Regions from separate parts of the Homo sapiens genome. Here region 2 is linked to region 1. Evidence: fine-mapped expression QTL. Tissue or cell type: whole blood. Region 1 holds a variant in brackets; the other region holds the start of a gene. All regions are shown on one strand. Distances are between the middles of the regions.

What was found. PIP is the estimated chance that this variant, and not a neighbour inherited with it, causes the effect.
Region 2: it holds the start of OSCAR, and the variant in region 1 is fine-mapped to the expression of OSCAR in whole blood (TOPMed, PIP above 0.99).

The regions. Positions count from the first base shown.
Region 1 is chr19:54,042,870-54,050,965 of GRCh38, reverse strand. All of the region lies in intron 4 of VSTM1 (V-set and transmembrane domain containing 1), which reads left to right. Among named protein-coding and RNA genes, the nearest start is that of VSTM1, 17 kb to the left of the region's middle. The variant G/C (reference allele first, on the strand shown) is at 3,160.
Region 2 is chr19:54,095,743-54,103,843 of GRCh38, reverse strand. It overlaps OSCAR (osteoclast associated Ig-like receptor), which reads left to right and starts at 3,041. Exons shown (of 5, transcript NM_133169.6): 1 at 3,041-3,088; 2 at 4,064-4,096; 3 at 6,680-6,982; 4 at 7,691-7,972. The coding sequence starts at 3,052. It overlaps NDUFA3 (NADH:ubiquinone oxidoreductase subunit A3), which reads right to left and starts at 989. Exons shown (of 4, transcript NM_004542.4): 1 at 956-989; 2 at 656-730. The coding sequence starts at 965. RefSeq lists an enhancer at 224-1,200.

The DNA of each region.
Region 1 (8,096 bases):
GTGAAGTGGCACAATCTCAGCTCACTGCAACCTCCACTTCCTGGGTTCTGGGTTCAAGCAATTCTCCTGCCTCGGCCTCCCGAATAGCTGGGATTACAGGCACCCACCACCATATCCAGCTCAGTTTTGTTTTTTGTTTTTTGTTTTTAGTAGAGATGGGGTTTCACCATGTTGGCCAGGCTGGTATCAAACTCCTGACCTCAAGCAATTCCCCCGCCTCGGCCTCTCAAAGTGTTGGGATTACAGGCATGAGCCACCGCACCCGGCCTAGAAGAACTTTAAAGCCCATTTTCTCAATGTTATTGGGGAAACTGCTGTGTTTTGGGGGGTGGAGGATGAGGGGAGATAACCTCTAAAGTGCTTCCGGGTTCTGAAGAAGCTGGTGTGTAAAACAGCACAGAGTGCGTTGTTTGCCATATGACATGATGAAAAACTAGGGTGGGATTTGGGGAATAATGGGGGTGAATTTTTCAGTGACCCATTTGGGGAGTAGGACCAGGACCTACGCAGAGTAGGTACTTCAGGAATATATATAATCAAGAGTTTGTTATAACTCTAAAATTCTCAAAAATAGGTGAATATTGAATTTTTTTTCTAATGTTGCTTATTCATTAACAATTGACTAAGATTCTGTCCTCAGAGTTTCTCATAAAAATTAGAGCTTTTGGGCCAGGCGAGGTGGCTCACATCTGTAATCCCAGCACTTTGGGAGGCCGAGGTGGGCGGATCACCTGAGGTCAGGAGTTCGAAACCAGCCTGGGCAACATGGTGAAACCCTGTCTCTACTAAAAATACAAAAATTTGCTGGGCATTGTGGTGGGCGCCTGTATTCCCAGCTACTCAAGTGACTGAGGCAGGAGAATTGCTTGAACCTGGGAGGCAGAGGTTGCAGTGAGCCGAGATTACACCACTGCCCTCCAGCCTGGGCAACAGAGTGAGACTCTGTCTCCAAAAAAAAAAAAAAAAAAAAAAAATTAAAAAGTTAGAGCTTTTGGCAGCATTCGGCTGAAACAGGAACTCATCCAGACTTTAAGGGCCAAATGCAGAATATAAATTGGCATCTAGATGCTTAATCATCCTTCCTTTCAGCAAGTCATAATCTTCCTGCAACCTACTCCAAAGAGCCAAAGTTGCTGAAGGTTGTTGCTAGCAGTCTGTGCTGGTATAATCGGTTTTCAAAAAGGTATCCTCCAAAGTGTTCTTGCAAGATAACTATTTGAAACGTTTTTATTCCATGATAGTAGGCTTGGGAAATGTCTGCTACCCTAGCACTACGAACACAATTCACGTCAGGAACGTTTTCTGAGAAAGATATGAAATCTAATGGGAGAGAGGAACACAGAAGTATCAGAAACGAGGTGGGAGATCTAGTGAGGTGTGAGGGGGAGGAGGAAGAGAAGCTTTTCTATTTTGAGCTCTTGTATCATTTATTTTCTTTCTTTTTTTATTGATATATAATTCACAGTCCAAAAATTCACCCTTGTAAAGTGTCCAATTCACTGGCATTTTGTATCTTCATGAGGTAGTATAACCATCACCACTACATAATTCCAGAACATTCTCATCACCCTAAAAGAAAATCTTGTACCCATTAAGCAGTCACTCCTCATTTCCCACTTTCCCACCAGGCCCTTCCAACCATTCATATGCTTCTCTGTGTCTATGATTTTGTCTATTCTGGACATTTTGTGTAAGTGGATTCATACACTATGTGATCCTTTGTGACTAGCTCCTTTCTCTTTAGCATAATGTTTTCAAAGTTTGTCTGTACTGTAGCATGCATCAATGTTTCATTTCTTGTCATGGTGAAAAGCATCGTATTGTATGGATAGACCACATTTTGCTTATCCATTCTTTTTTTTGTTTTTGTTTTTGTTTTTTTGAGACGGAGTCTTGCTCTGTCGCCCAGGCTGGAGTGCAGTGGCACAATCTCAGCTCACTGCAACCTCCGCCTCCCAGGTTTAAGTGATTCTTTTGCCTTAACCTCCTGAGTAGCTGGACCTACAGGCGCCCGTCACCATGCCTAGCTAATTTGTGTATTTTTAGTAGAGAGGGGGTTTCACCATGTTGGCTAGGCTGGTCTCGAACTCCTGACCTCAGGTGATCCACACGCCTCAGCTTCCCAAAGTGCTGGGATTACAGACTTGAGCTACTGTGCCTGGCCCCGTTCTTCTTTTGATGGACATTTGTGTTGTCTGCACCTCTTGGCTAAAGCGAGTAATGGTGCTGGAACACTGTGGTAGGAGTATCTGTTTGTCTCCGCGCTGTAAATTATCTTGAGTATGTACCTAGAAGTGGATTTGCTAGGACATATGGTGACTATTATGTTCAACTTTTTGAGGAACTGCCAAATCATTTTCCATTGTGGCTGTATCATGTTATATTCCTTCCAGTAATATATGTGGGTTCCAATATCTCCACATCCTTGTCAACACTTACTTTTCTTTTTTTAAATTATAGCCATCCCAGTGGGTATTATATAATTTCTTAAAATGTACTTTTTGAGTTCAAATTTGTATCATCACAATTCTAAACAGAATAAAATATCTTTGCCGGGCGCAGTGGCTCACGTCTGTAATACCAGGACTTTGGGAAGATGAGGCAGGAGGATCACTTGAGCCCAGGGGTTCAAGACCAGCCTGGACAACTTGGTAAGATCCCATCTCTACAAAAAATACAAAAATTAGCCAGGCGTGGTGGTGTGCACCTGTAGTCCCAGCTACTTGGGAGGCTCAGGCAGAAAGATCGTTTGCGCCCAGGAGGTTGAGGCTTCAGTGAACTGTGATTGCGCCACAGCACTCCAGCCTGGGTGACAGAGCGAGACCCTGTTTCAGTAAATAAATAAAATAAAAGTAAAATATCTGTAAGCACAGGTATGATGTCCCCAGCCTGTATTTATATGCCTAAAACACACTAGAAAACGACTCTATGTTCAATCGCAATGTAGAGAATGAAGATGAATTTTATCACACAAGACTTGACTTTCTTTCTGGTGCCTGTGCCTCCATTTATGCCCCGTGTCAGGCTGTATCTTGTTGCTCACGCTGACTTTAGTAGCGTAGCAAGTTATGATTTATTCTGGCAATTTGCAAATACTGATGCAACATTTGGCCAGGATCTGTGGACATCTCAGGGTGAACCCAGTTCAGCTGATTATGG[G/C]GTCATATGAAGATGAGAATTTTGCAATAATGTACTTCTCATTTCTAGTGAATTGCTGTGTGAAAGATACCGTAGGCTGGAAAAGGGGAGAACAGAAAGGACAAGGCAAGGCTGCTGTTTCTCTGCTTCCATCTGGGGAAACTGAGAGTCCAGGAGCAGCTGTTCCTGCCCTGTTTTCATAAGTCCTTGGAGATGCACTGATAGAATTGTTGCTTATGGCCAGGCATGGTGGCTTATGTAATCCCAGCACTTTGGGAGGCCAAAGTGGGCAGAACACTTGAGCTCTGGAGTTTGAGACCAGCCTAACCAACATGGTGAAACCTCATCTCTACTAGAAATATAAAAAATTAGCGGGGTGAGGTGGCGGGTGCTTGTAATCCCAGCTCCTTGGGAGGCTGAGGCAGGAGAATTGCTTGAACCCCAGAGGGGGAGGTTCCAAAGCCGAGATTGTACCACTGCACTCCAGCCTGGGAGACAGAGTGAGACTGTCTCAAAAAAAAAAAAATTGTTGCTTTTGAGGGGTTCTCTGATTCAGCTCCACCAGAAGCAGGCTCTTAGACAGCATTAGTGTGAAAGTGACGTTTTATTTTATTTATTATTTATTTAGTTTTGAGACAGAGTTTCGCTCTTGTTGCCCAGGCTGGAGTGCAATGGCGTGATCTTGGCTCACTGCAACCTCCGCCTACCAGGTTCAAGAGATTCTCCTGCCTCAGCCTCCCAAATAGCTGGGATTACAGGCATGCACCACCACACCCAGCTAATATTCTATTTTTAGTAGAGACGGGGTTTCTCCATGTTGGTCAGGCTGGTCTCGAACTCCTGACCTCAGGTGCTCTGCCTGCCTCGACCTCCCAAAGTGCTGGGATTACAGGTGTGAGCCACCACGCCTGGCTTGAAAATTACATTTTAGGGAGTGGGGAAGAAGGGCTGGGAGGAAAATAGATTAAACAAGTGTGGGATATCTGTGTCCCTCAGATGGTATCTTTGGCTCCATCCTGCAGAAAGCAGTGGAGACAGAGAAGGTCGAAGACCAGAGGCTAGGGAGCTGGGGTCCCCACAGCCGTCAGTGGCAGTTTGTCCCGGGCATGTAAATTCCAAGGCATTTGGAGTTCTCCCAGGCAGTCCCCCAAAGAAGAGATACAAATGTTCACTTTGGAAAGGGAAAGAAGCCACGATCTAGAATGCATAAAAATGGGAAAGGGATCTGGGGAACATGGGTTGAGGAACATTGACAGAATCTATTACAGAGAGAGATGGGTGTAGGTGGAATATTGGGTGAAAAAAAATCATCATTATACCTACAATCCCATTATCCGACACAATGAGTCAGTTTCTAGACTGAGCGCTTTAAAGCCAGGATTTTTCATCATTACCTAACTCTTCAAGTTAGATATTATTAGCTCTCTGCCCCCTCCTTATATTTAACCAAAAAATAACGTATTCCAGAAAGGGAAGGGAACATTTACAAAGTCAGGAGGTAGGAGACCCAGTACTAGAACTCAAATATGTCTTGTTTCAAACTCCCCACTCCTTTTGCTGCTCCCTGATGATCAGCTCAGAAAGAACCTTATTTCAGGGAGGGGGATAGATAGATAATTAGATGTGATAGATAATAGGCAAGTAGGCAGATAAATAGATAACTAGATATGATAGATTAGATAGATACATAGATGATAGGTAGATAAGTAGCTAGATACGATGGACAGATTAGATAGATAGACAGATGATAGGTAAGTAGGTAGATAGATAACTAGATACAACAGGTTAGATAAGTAAGTAGATAGATAACTAGATATGATAGATTAGATAGATAAATAGACGATAGGTAAGTAGGTAGATAGATACAGATAGATTAGCTAGCTAGCTAGATGATAGATAACTAGATATAATAGATAAGATAGATGATTAGATAGACAGATAATTAGATATGATTGATAGATACATTAGATAGATGATAGATTAGATAGATAGATGATAGGTAACTAGGTAGCTAGATAAAGCTAGCTAGATAGATAGATAGATATACAGATACACAGATAGATACATAGATACCTAGATAGGTGATAGAGTTGCAAGATAGAAAAATTAGATAAGTAGGTGGATAGATAGATAGATAACTAGATAGAATAGATTAAATAGATAATAGTAGGTGAATAGACAGATACATACAGATGATAGATGATAGATGATAGATAACTGGTTATGATTGATAGATACATTAGATAGATGATAGATTTGGTAACTAGATGATAGGTAAGTCGGTAGATAGATAAGTGATAATTAGATATGATAGGATGGATAGATTAGACAGACAGCAGGTAAGCAGGTGGATAGACAGATAAAGATAGATACATAGATGCCTAGATAAGTGATAGATTAACAAGATAGAAAAATTAGACAGACAGATAGTTAATTACATATGATAGGATAGATAGATTGGATAGGTGATAGGCAAGTAGGTAGATAGATAAATCATAATTAGATAGGACGGATAGATTGGATAGATGATAGGTAAGTAGGTACAGAGACAGATAAAGATAGATAGGTAGATAGATAATAGATACCTAGACAGATGGTAGATAGATTAGCGAGATAGATAAATTAGATAGGTAATTCTCTATATATAGATATGTAGAAATGCCAATGCAAACATAGCGAACCAAGTAGGGGAAGCGTCTGGATGGGAGACCCTCTGTTGGTGCAGAGGACCAGGCGTGTGAAGCATCTCAGACTTGGCTCTGTAATGTGACCACAGATCATTGCACACCTAGGAAAAATTCTCAGACTCAAAGCACACTAACAAAGATAGCGGGGGTCTTGGTGAAGCCCCTTTCTGGGGCCTCACTTCTATAGTTGCTCAACTTTTTTCCTTAATCACGTTTCTGCTACTTACTCCTTAAAGTCTCACGACTTGTGTTTCTTGAATCTAAAGTGCCAAGAAAAACAAAAAACGGGGGGGAACTGCATGGACTCTGTCGCCTAGCTTTAGTAACAGGTTGCTCTCTCTTCCTCAACGCTGTGAGCTTTGGACACAACCCTTGCTGTAATCCCAGGAGTCACACGGGAATGCATGCCCTTCACCAGTGGGAGGGAAATAATTGTACTACCTTGCAGGGTTGTTGTTAAGACTTTAAAACGCTATGATGTAGACTTGCATGGCAATATTGCTCAAGAACTAGTTTTTTTTGTTTTGTTTTGTTTTTGTTTTTTAATTGGTAGAAATTTTATCTCCTGAGAGGGATGCTTTTTTGAGTTGGAGTCTTGGTCAGTTGAGTGTATGATGCAGTGATGCGATCTCGGCTCACTGCAACCTCCGCCTCCCAGGTTCAAGCAATTCTCTTCTCTCAGCCTCCTGAGTAGCTGGGACTACAGGCGTGCGCCACCATGCCCAGCTTATTTTTTATATTTTCAGTAGAGACAGGGTTTCACCATGTTGGCCAGGCTGGTCTCGAACTCCAGACCTCAAGTGATCCACCTACTTCACTCTCCCAAAGTGCCAGGATTACAGGCGTGAGCCACCGTGCCCGGCCACTGGTCATTCTTTTCTACCCTGCTCTAACCCTGTTCTTATTAGGAATCCTCCCTGAATTCTCCCAGCTGATCCCTTGTTCTGTGTCTTGGGGAATCATGTCTCCTTCAGAGAGCCCCACCCCTCCCCACTCTAAACGCCTTCCATGCCCGTGTCACTGCTGTTCATTACCTGGCATCAACGAGCTCATTGAAGTGTGTTTGAAGTTGGCTGGGCGTGGTGGTCTGTACTCCCAGCTACCCTGGAGGCCGAGTGAGGAGGACCACTTGAGCCCAGGAATTCGAGTATGATCACACCACTGCACTCTAGCCTGGGCAACAATGGGAACCCATTGGCACATCTGGGATTGGCATCCTGAGCTCCCATCTGTGACCTCCCTCCTCTCCCCTCCTCTCCCCTCCATTGCCCTCACCCTCTCCCCATAATCTTCACATCCCGTCCTTTCACATCTCTCTCTCTCCTTTAAAAAAAGAAAAAGGAAATATGTTTGAAGTTAAGAGCTGAGATCATGTCTGTGTTAGCCAGGGTTTTCCAGAAAAACAGAACCAATAGAACATATAGATATAAGCTGGGTGTGGTGGCTCACGCCTGTAATCCCAGCACTTTGGGAGGCCGAGGCAGGCAGATTGCCTGAGGTCAGTAGTTCAAGACCAGCGTGGCCAACATGGCGAAACCCCGTCTCTACTAAAAATACAAAAATTAGCCGGGCGTGATGGTGGGCACCTGTAATCCCAGCTACTCAGGAGGCTAAGGCAGGAGAATTGCTTGAACCCGGGAGGCGGAGCTTGCAGTGAGCCAAGATTGCACTATTGCACTCCAGCCTGGACGATAAGAGTGAGACTTTGTCTCAAAAAAAAAAAAGAGAACATATACATGTATATACATATATGGAGAGAGAGATTGATTTTAATGGATTGGTTCACGTGATTGTGGGGAGCTGGCAAGTCTGAAATCTGCAGGGCAGGCAGGCAGGGGATCCAGGGGAGACTTGATATTGCAGCTTGAGTCTGGAGGCAGAATTCCTTCCACCTTGGGGGACCTCAGTCTTTTCTCTTAAAGTCTTAAAGTCTTCAACTGATTGGATGAGGCCCACCCCTATGACAGTGGGTCATCTGCTTTACTCAAAGTCTATTGGTCGAAATGTCCAGCTCCAAGGAAGTTCCAGCTCCAAGGTGGGAGATCCAGGCTTGGAAGCCAGGCCATCTGTCTGGCTTCTCTTAGCTTTTCTACTCACCCCATCAGTGGATTTCAGACAGTGATTACACAGACAGATGTGGTGGCTCACGCCTGTAATCCCAACTACTCAGGAGGCTGAGTCAGGAGAATTGTTTGAACCAGGGAGGTGGAGGTTGCAGTGAGCCAGGATCACACTCCAGCCTGGGTGACAGAACACGACTCCATCTCAAAA
Region 2 (8,101 bases), 53 kb before region 1:
AAACAAAAAATTAGCTGGGCGCCTGTAATCCCAGCTACTCGGGAGGCTGAGGCAGGAGAATCCCTTGAACCCAGGAGGCCGAGGTTGCAGTGAGCCGGGATCGCGCCACTGCACTTCAGCCTGGGTGAGAGTGAGACTCCATCGCAAAAAAAAAAGCTACATTTTAACAATCCCCCGCCCCCATCCCTGCAGGAACTCCGGTGCTAATTAAAGTGTGAGTAGGGCAGTTCCAGGGCAGAGGGCAGAGATTTTCAATCAGCAAGGCACATTGGGATCATACGGGGATTTTCACAAGACACAGATTCCCCAGTCCCACCTCCACCCAAGCCAACTCAATTCAGAATGGGGGAGAGGAAAGATGAAAAGGAGGAGGAGGATCTGGACTTTTTTTTGGTGCTCAGGTGTTAAGGCATAAGCAGGGTTGAGAACGTCTCATTTAGAGGGGTTAAGAGCGTATTGGGTAGGTGGAGAGGAACGCGGGGGGCGATGGTGGAGAGGTTATAATGGGTATGGGGATAGATAAGGGGATGCCGTGGGGGTGCAGACACACTAGAGGGGACCCGAGGGCGGCGATAGGGCTTTAGGGGTACAAGATGGAGGGATGTAGGGGGACGGGGGTGGACGATGCAAGTTTGCGCCTGGAGCACTCACGCACCGAGGCCCCCGACGACGAAGGACACGACCAGCACTGGCTCCTTGTCCCAGGCATTCTTGAGGAAGGCGCCGACTCCTGAAGGGGTGGCAAGAAGCGTCACCCCTGCAAGTAGCTGCCCCCGGTGACCTCTAACCCTCTCGTGCCACCCCTGCCCTGGAGGAGCCCCCTCGTGACTTCTGCGTTCCCCTCCAGCACGGACCCCATCGCTTCCACCCCTGCCCTGCCGCACCTCAGTCCCAGGACCGCCCAGAGGTTCCCAGAACTACCCGAGCCCCGTGCGCCACCGGCACCTGCACTTACTCGCAGCCATCTTTGTCTCCGCGGCGGCGACAGCGGCGAGGACGCGGAGCACCCTGGGAGTTGTGGTCCCTATGCGCGAGAACCCGCTCCCAGGGCTGCGCGTGCGCCCTGGAGCACAAGTAGAGGCGAAAGCAAGGACGCGGAGCACTCTGGGAGTTGTGGTCCCTCTGTGCGACGGCCCGCTTTCGGAGCCTGCGCGTGCGCACTCGCGCAGAACAAAGATGGAGCCGTGGAGGTAAAGGAAGTGGTGTCAGGAGCAAGCGCAAGCCTGACTTTGCGGACCTGCGTGGAATCTCCTTAGTCTCAGCCTAGAAGTCGCTCCGGAGTGACTAGTCCTCCTGCTGCGACCCACCTAAGGCGGAACAAAATAGTCCCCATTTTATAGTTTATGTATGAAAGCCCATTTTACAGACGAAGAAACTGAGCCCGGGAGAAGGTGAATGACTAACCTGTCCTTCGAGGTCTCAGCTCAACATCGGCTCGTCCTGGAAGCGCTAGGTCTCATCCCAGATGGGTTAGGAGCTTTCTGCGGGCTCTCACAGTGCTCTGTTACCGCCATTATAGCTCAGATCACTTAAGAAACTGACCTGGTCTGGGCCAGGCGCGGTGGCTCACGCCTGTAATCCCAGCACTTTGGGAGGCCGAGGCGGGCGGATCACGAGGTCAGGAGATCTAGACCATCCTGGCTAACATGGTGAAACCCTGTCTCTACTTAAAAATACAACACAAATTAGCCGGGCGTGGTGGTGGGCGCCCGTAGTCCCAGCTACTGGGGAGGCTAAGGCAGGAGAATGGCGTGAACCCGGGAGGCGGAGCTTGCAGTGAGCCGAGATCACACCACTGCACTCCAGCCTGGGCGACAGAGCGAGACTCCGTCTCAAAAAAAAAGAAACTGACCTGGTCTTGGTCTTTCAGTCGGACTGGTAGCTGCTGCTTGAGAGCAGTAACGGAGTCTGAGTTCCCTCTGTGCCTGCCAACATGGCACAGCGAGGGTCTGGCACGTAATAGGTTCTAATTTTTTTTTTTTTCTTCTGAGATTGAGTCTAGCTCTGTCGCCCAGGCTGGAGTGCAATGGCGCGATCTCGGCTCACAGCAACCTCCGACTCCCGAGTTCAAGCGATTCTCCTGCCTCAGCCTCCTGAATAGCTGGGATTACAGGCGCGCGCCTCCACAGCCGGCTAATTTTTCTTTTTTAGGAGAGACGGGGGTTTCTCCATGTTGGTCAGGCTGGTCTCGAACTTCCCGACCTCAGGTGATCCACCCGCCTTGGCCTCCCAAAGTGCTGGGATTACAGGCGTGAACAACCGCGCCCGGCCTAGAGGGGCTAATTTTTATCTATCTATCTATCTAACACAGTATCACACCAAGAGCCTGGCACATAATAGGTGCTAATTTTTCTCTGTCAACCAATCTATCAATCGATCAATTAATCACAGCAAGGGCCTGGCACATAATTGGTGTTAATTTTTATCTATCCATCAATCAATCACAGCAAGGGCCTGGCACTTAACAGGTGCTAATTTTTATCTATCTATCTATCTATCTATCTATCTATCTATCCATCCATCCATCTATCTATCTTTCAATCACAGCAAGGGCCTGGCACATAATAGGTGCAAATTTTTATCTATCTGTCAATCAATGACAGCAAGAGTCTGGCACATAATAGGTTCTTATTTTTAAAACAGACAGATATCTTTCTATCTGTCTATCTATATTTAAAGACATGGTCTCACTCTATCACCCAGGCTGGAGTGCAGTGGCACAATTTATTTATTTATTTTTTAGACAGGGTCTCGCTCTGTTGCCCAGGCTGCTCTTGAACTCTTGGGCTCAAGCGATCCTCCTGCCTCCACCTCCTGACTAGTATTTGTTTCTAGAGTTAAATAAATGAACACCACAGGTTATGACTGAACCCCCTGCTAATTTTTCCACAGTGCCATAGGGCTATGACACAGTCACCCACAGGCCCCCACCTCGATACTCTCTTCCGTAAATGAGGATCTGGGTCTGGTTTTCTGATGTTGCCTCATTTCCTGGGAGGGGAGAGGGTGCGACCAAGCCCTGGCTCCAGCTCTAGCGGGTATCTGCCCACCATGGCCCTGGTGCTGATCCTCCAGCTGCTGACCCTCTGTGAGTCACCCCTTTCTTCTCCCTGGGTTCCTGGCTGGGGTTGGGGGCAGAGAGAGAGGCAATGGAGACCCAGACACCCTGCAGGGGGACCAGGCAGCAGGTTTGGGATTCTAGGTTCAAATAAAGAACAGGGCTGGGGCCCAGACCCCTGGGTCCTAAAGCAAGAGAACACAGATTCCCGAAAGAGGAAGGAGGTGGGGACAGGTATCTCTGGTTCTTGAGGCAGGAAGAGGTCAGGAGACAGGGAGGACTCCCAGATTCTTATATGGGAGGGGGATGGAAGCCAGGACTCCTGATTCCCTGGGAAAAGGGGGCTGGGAACAGGGCTCTTAGCTCCTGAGAGAAGAGGGAAATGGGGACCCAGATTCCTGAACTCGTGAGAGGAGAAACTCTACGATCATTGTTCCCTGGAAAGGTGGAGTTCAAGGGCCTGAACTCTTGGTTGCCCAGGCCAGAGGGGTCTGCGTTCAGACTTCTTCGGTAGGTGGGCAATGGATGTCCAAATTTCTGCCTACTGAGACAGGAGGAGGGAGGGATAAGATTCTCATTTCCCAGAGGAGATAGGAGCTGGGAACTCAGATTCCTGGGTTACCAATGAGATGGGGCTGGCCACAAAGGGTTTTGAAAAGAACTCGCTGTTGGGCGCAGCGGCTCATGCCTGTGGGAGCCGAGGCCCAGCACTTTGGGAGGCCGAGGCGGGTGGATCACCTGAGGACAGGAGTTCAAGACCAGCCTGACCAACATGGCGAAACCCCTCTCTACTAAAAATACAAAGATTAGCCTGGTGTGGTGGCGGGCACTTGTAGTCCCAGCTACTACGGAGGCTGAGGCAGGAGAATCACTTGAACCTGGGAGGCAGAGGTTGCAGTGAGCTGAGATCACACCACTACACTCCAGCCTGGGCGACAGAGTGAGACTCTGCCTCAGACAAAAAAAAAAAAAGGAAAAAGAAACTAGTCCCTCAACCTCCTACAGGGCCTCTGTGTCACACAGACATCACTCCGTCTGGTGAGTAGCCACCCCATCCACTCTCCTTTTGTTGCTGACACCCCTTTTCCAATTACTCAGATTTTATTTTGGTGCCCAATCCCATCCCAGATATCCTTATTTTCCTCCCTCCCTCCATTCCTTCCTTCTTTTCTCATTCCCCTTAGTGGCCATTATAGGTGAGTACTGAAGACCAGGAACTTCTGAGGCAGAGGCCTAAGCTAGGACCTCAGTTTCACCATCGTATTCATTTATATGTGACCATATGACCTAGAACAAGTCACAGCTTGCTAAGACTCCATTTCCTTCTCTGTAAAATGGGCCGCTGTGAGATCTCATCAAATCACATGTGCAAAACCCTGAGCCTGGCACAGTACAGGGCTTAAGAAATAGGATCTTGGGCTGGGCGCAATGGCCAACGTCTGTAATCCCAGCACTTTGGGAGGCAGAGGCGGGCGGATCACAAGGTCAGATCGAGATCATCCTGGCTAATGTGGTGAAACCCCGTCTCTACTAAAAAAAAAAAAAAAAAAAAAAAATTAGCCGGGTGTGGTGGGACGCACCTGTAATCCCAGCTACTCAGGAGGCTGAGGCAAGAGAATCGCTTGAACCCAGGAGGCAGAGGTTGCAGTAAGCTGAGATCGCGCCACTGCACTCCAGCCTGGGTGACAGTGCAAGACTCCACTTCAAAAACAAACAAACAAACAAAAAAAACTCTTTTGGAGATATTTCAGTGTCGCTATAGCTATCTCTACCTATTTATTTTATTTATTTATTTATTTATTTTGAGACCAGTTTCTCTCTGTCGCCCAGGCCGGAGTGCAGTGGTGCAATCTCGGCTCACTGCAACCACCTCCTGGGTTCAAGGGATTCTCCTGCCTCAGCCTCCTGAGTAGCTGGGACTACAGGCACACACCACAATGCCCGGATAATTTTTGTATTTTTAGTAGAGACAGGGTTTCCCCATGTTGGTCAGGCTGGTCTGGAACTCCTGACCTCAGGTGATCCCTCTGCCTCAGCCTCCCAAAGTGTTGGGATTACAAACATGAGCCCCCTCACCCGACCCTTATTTTTATTCATTTTTAGAGATGGGGTCTCATTGTGTCACCCGGGCTGGAGTACGGTGGCTCTATCATAGCTCACTGCAGCTTTGAATTCCTGGGCTCAGACAATCCTCCAGCCTCAGCCTCCCAAAGTGCATGCCACCATGGAGTTCTCACTCTGTTGCCCAGGCTGGAGTGCAGTGGCATGATCTCAGCTAACTGCAGCCTCCGACTCTAGGGTTCAAGTAATTCTCCTACTCAGCATCCCAAACAGCTGGAACTACAAGCTAGCACTACCACGCCTGGCTAATTTTTCTGTTTTTAGTAGAGATGGGATTTTACCATGTTGGTCAGGCTGGTCTTGAACTCCTGACCTCAGGTGATGCACCCACCTTGGCCTCCCAAAGTGCTGGGATTACAGCTGTGAGCCACCGGACCCAACAGCCTTCCTGTACTCTTAATTTGTGTGATTTGTGAATAAGTGATATCTGCCAGTACTATCATTTGTCCTCTAGTTTTGTCTTTTAGCATACACAACTTAAGAAATTTGAAGTGGTCAAATTAATTAATCTTCCATACAACTTTTTATTTTATATTTTAAGAAGCCTTCCTTACCCCAAGACAAATATATTTTCCTATAGTTTTTTGAATACTTTTATAGTTTAAAAAAAAAGAAACACAGGGTCTTTAATTAATCTGGAAGTTGTTTTGGGAAATGGTATGAGGTAGGGATCCAACATTTTTCTTTTCCAAATAGCAAGTTTTGGCAACTCTTGAAATACTATATTGCAAATATTCTGGAAAGCTATTTAAAATTAGAGTTCTGGCTGGGCGTGGTGGCTCACACCTGTAATCCCAGCACTTTGGGAGGCCGAGGTGGGAGGATTGCTTGAGCCCAAGAGTTCAAGAGTAGCCTGGGCAATATAGCGAATGCTCGTCTCTACTAAAAATTAAAAAAAAAAAAATTAGCCTGGTGTAGTGGCATGTGCCTGTGGTCCCAGGTACTCAGGAGGCTGAGGTGGAGGACTGTTTGAGCCCAAGAGATTGAGGCTGCAGTGAGTTGAGAACATGCCACTGCACTCCTGCCTGAGCAACAGAGCAAGACCCTGCCTCAAAAAAAAAAAAAAAAAAAAAAAAAAAAGTCTGGGTGTGGTGGCACAAGCTTGTAAACTTAGCACTTTGGGAGGCCGAGGTGGGAGGATTGCTTGAGGCCAGTAGTTTAAGACCAACCTGCTCAACATAGGGAGACCGCCCCCTCCCATCTCATTACTTAAAAATAATAATAATAATAAAATTACAGAGTTCTGGGACCTGACCTTTTGAAACTGTGTTTACAAACTGTGGAGTAAAGCTCAGAAGTTTCTGTCCTGCCCCTCTGATTTGCACCTGGTTTTAACAAGGCTTGATTGTAGTCCAGTCTCTCCCTGATTTTACAAACAGGAAACTGAGGCTAAGAAAGGGGCAGTAATTGTCCAAGGTGATTTTCCTCCTTCCCCAACTTCCCTTTCATCTTCTGGGGCTCCCAGGAGGCCCGAGGACCCAGGCAGCCCCGTTTATTCAGTCCCCCCAGCTTCATACCACCCTAAGCCATGGCTGGGAGCTCAGCCGGCTACAGTTGTGACCCCTGGGGTCAACGTGACCTTGAGATGCCGGGCACCCCAACCCGCTTGGAGATTTGGACTTTTCAAGCCTGGAGAGATCGCTCCCCTTCTCTTCCGGGATGTGTCCTCCGAGCTGGCAGAATTCTTTCTGGAGGAGGTGACTCCAGCCCAAGGGGGAAGTTACCGCTGCTGCTACCGAAGGCCAGACTGGGGGCCGGGTGTCTGGTCCCAGCCCAGCGATGTCCTGGAGCTGCTGGTGACAGGTGAGGTCCTGGGGTCGGGGAGGAGAAGTGGGTGGAACAAGGGAGTTGGGGGAGGGACAGAGAGATATAGGGAAAGAGAGACAGAGCGAGGCGGGCAAACAGATTCACAGACACAAGAAAAGACAGATACAGAGACACTAGGGGGAGAGAGAGAGACAGGGGAGCAGAGAGAGAGAGAGGTACAGTGCGGGGGGAGAGAGAGAGAAAGAGGCAGAAGGAGAAAGGGAGGCAGAGAGAGAGGGAGGCAGAGAGAGAGGGAGGCAGAGAGAGAGGGAGGCAGAGAGAGAGGCAGGCAGAGAGAGAGGGAGGCAGAGAGAGAGGGAGGCAGAGAGAGAGGGAGGCAGAGAGAGAGGGAGGCAGAGAGAGAGGGAGGCAGAGAGAGGGAGGCAGAGAGAGAGGCAGGCAGAGAGAGAGGCAGGCAGAGAGAGAGGGAGGCAGAGAGAGAGGGAGGCAGAGAGAGAGGGAGGCAGAGAGAGAGGGAGGCAGAGAGAGAGGGAGGCAGAGAGAGAGGGAGGCAGAGAGAGGGAGGCAGAGAGAGAGGGAGGCAGAGAGAGAGGCAGACAGAGAGAGAGACAGGCAGAGAGAAAGAGAGGCAGAAAGAGAGAGAGAGGCACAGAGAAAGCGAGAGACAGAGGAGAAGGAGAAACAGAGCGAGCGAGCGAGCGGAAGACGCTCACGCGGCCCCGGACTCTCACCCCGTCTCTGCAGAGGAGCTGCCGCGGCCGTCGCTGGTGGCGCTGCCCGGGCCGGTGGTGGGTCCTGGCGCCAACGTGAGCCTGCGCTGCGCGGGCCGCCTGCGGAACATGAGCTTCGTGCTGTACCGCGAGGGCGTGGCGGCCCCGCTGCAGTACCGCCACTCCGCGCAGCCCTGGGCCGACTTCACGCTGCTGGGCGCCCGCGCCCCCGGCACCTACAGCTGCTACTATCACACGCCCTCCGCGCCCTACGTGCTGTCGCAGCGCAGCGAGGTGCTGGTCATCAGCTGGGAAGGTGAGGGCCCTGAGGCCCGGCCCGCCTCCTCCGCCCCAGGAATGCAGGCCCCAGGACCTCCGCCCTCAGACCCAGGAGCCCAGGCCCCCAGCCTCTCCTCCTTCAGACCCAGGGGTCTAGTCCTGCAGC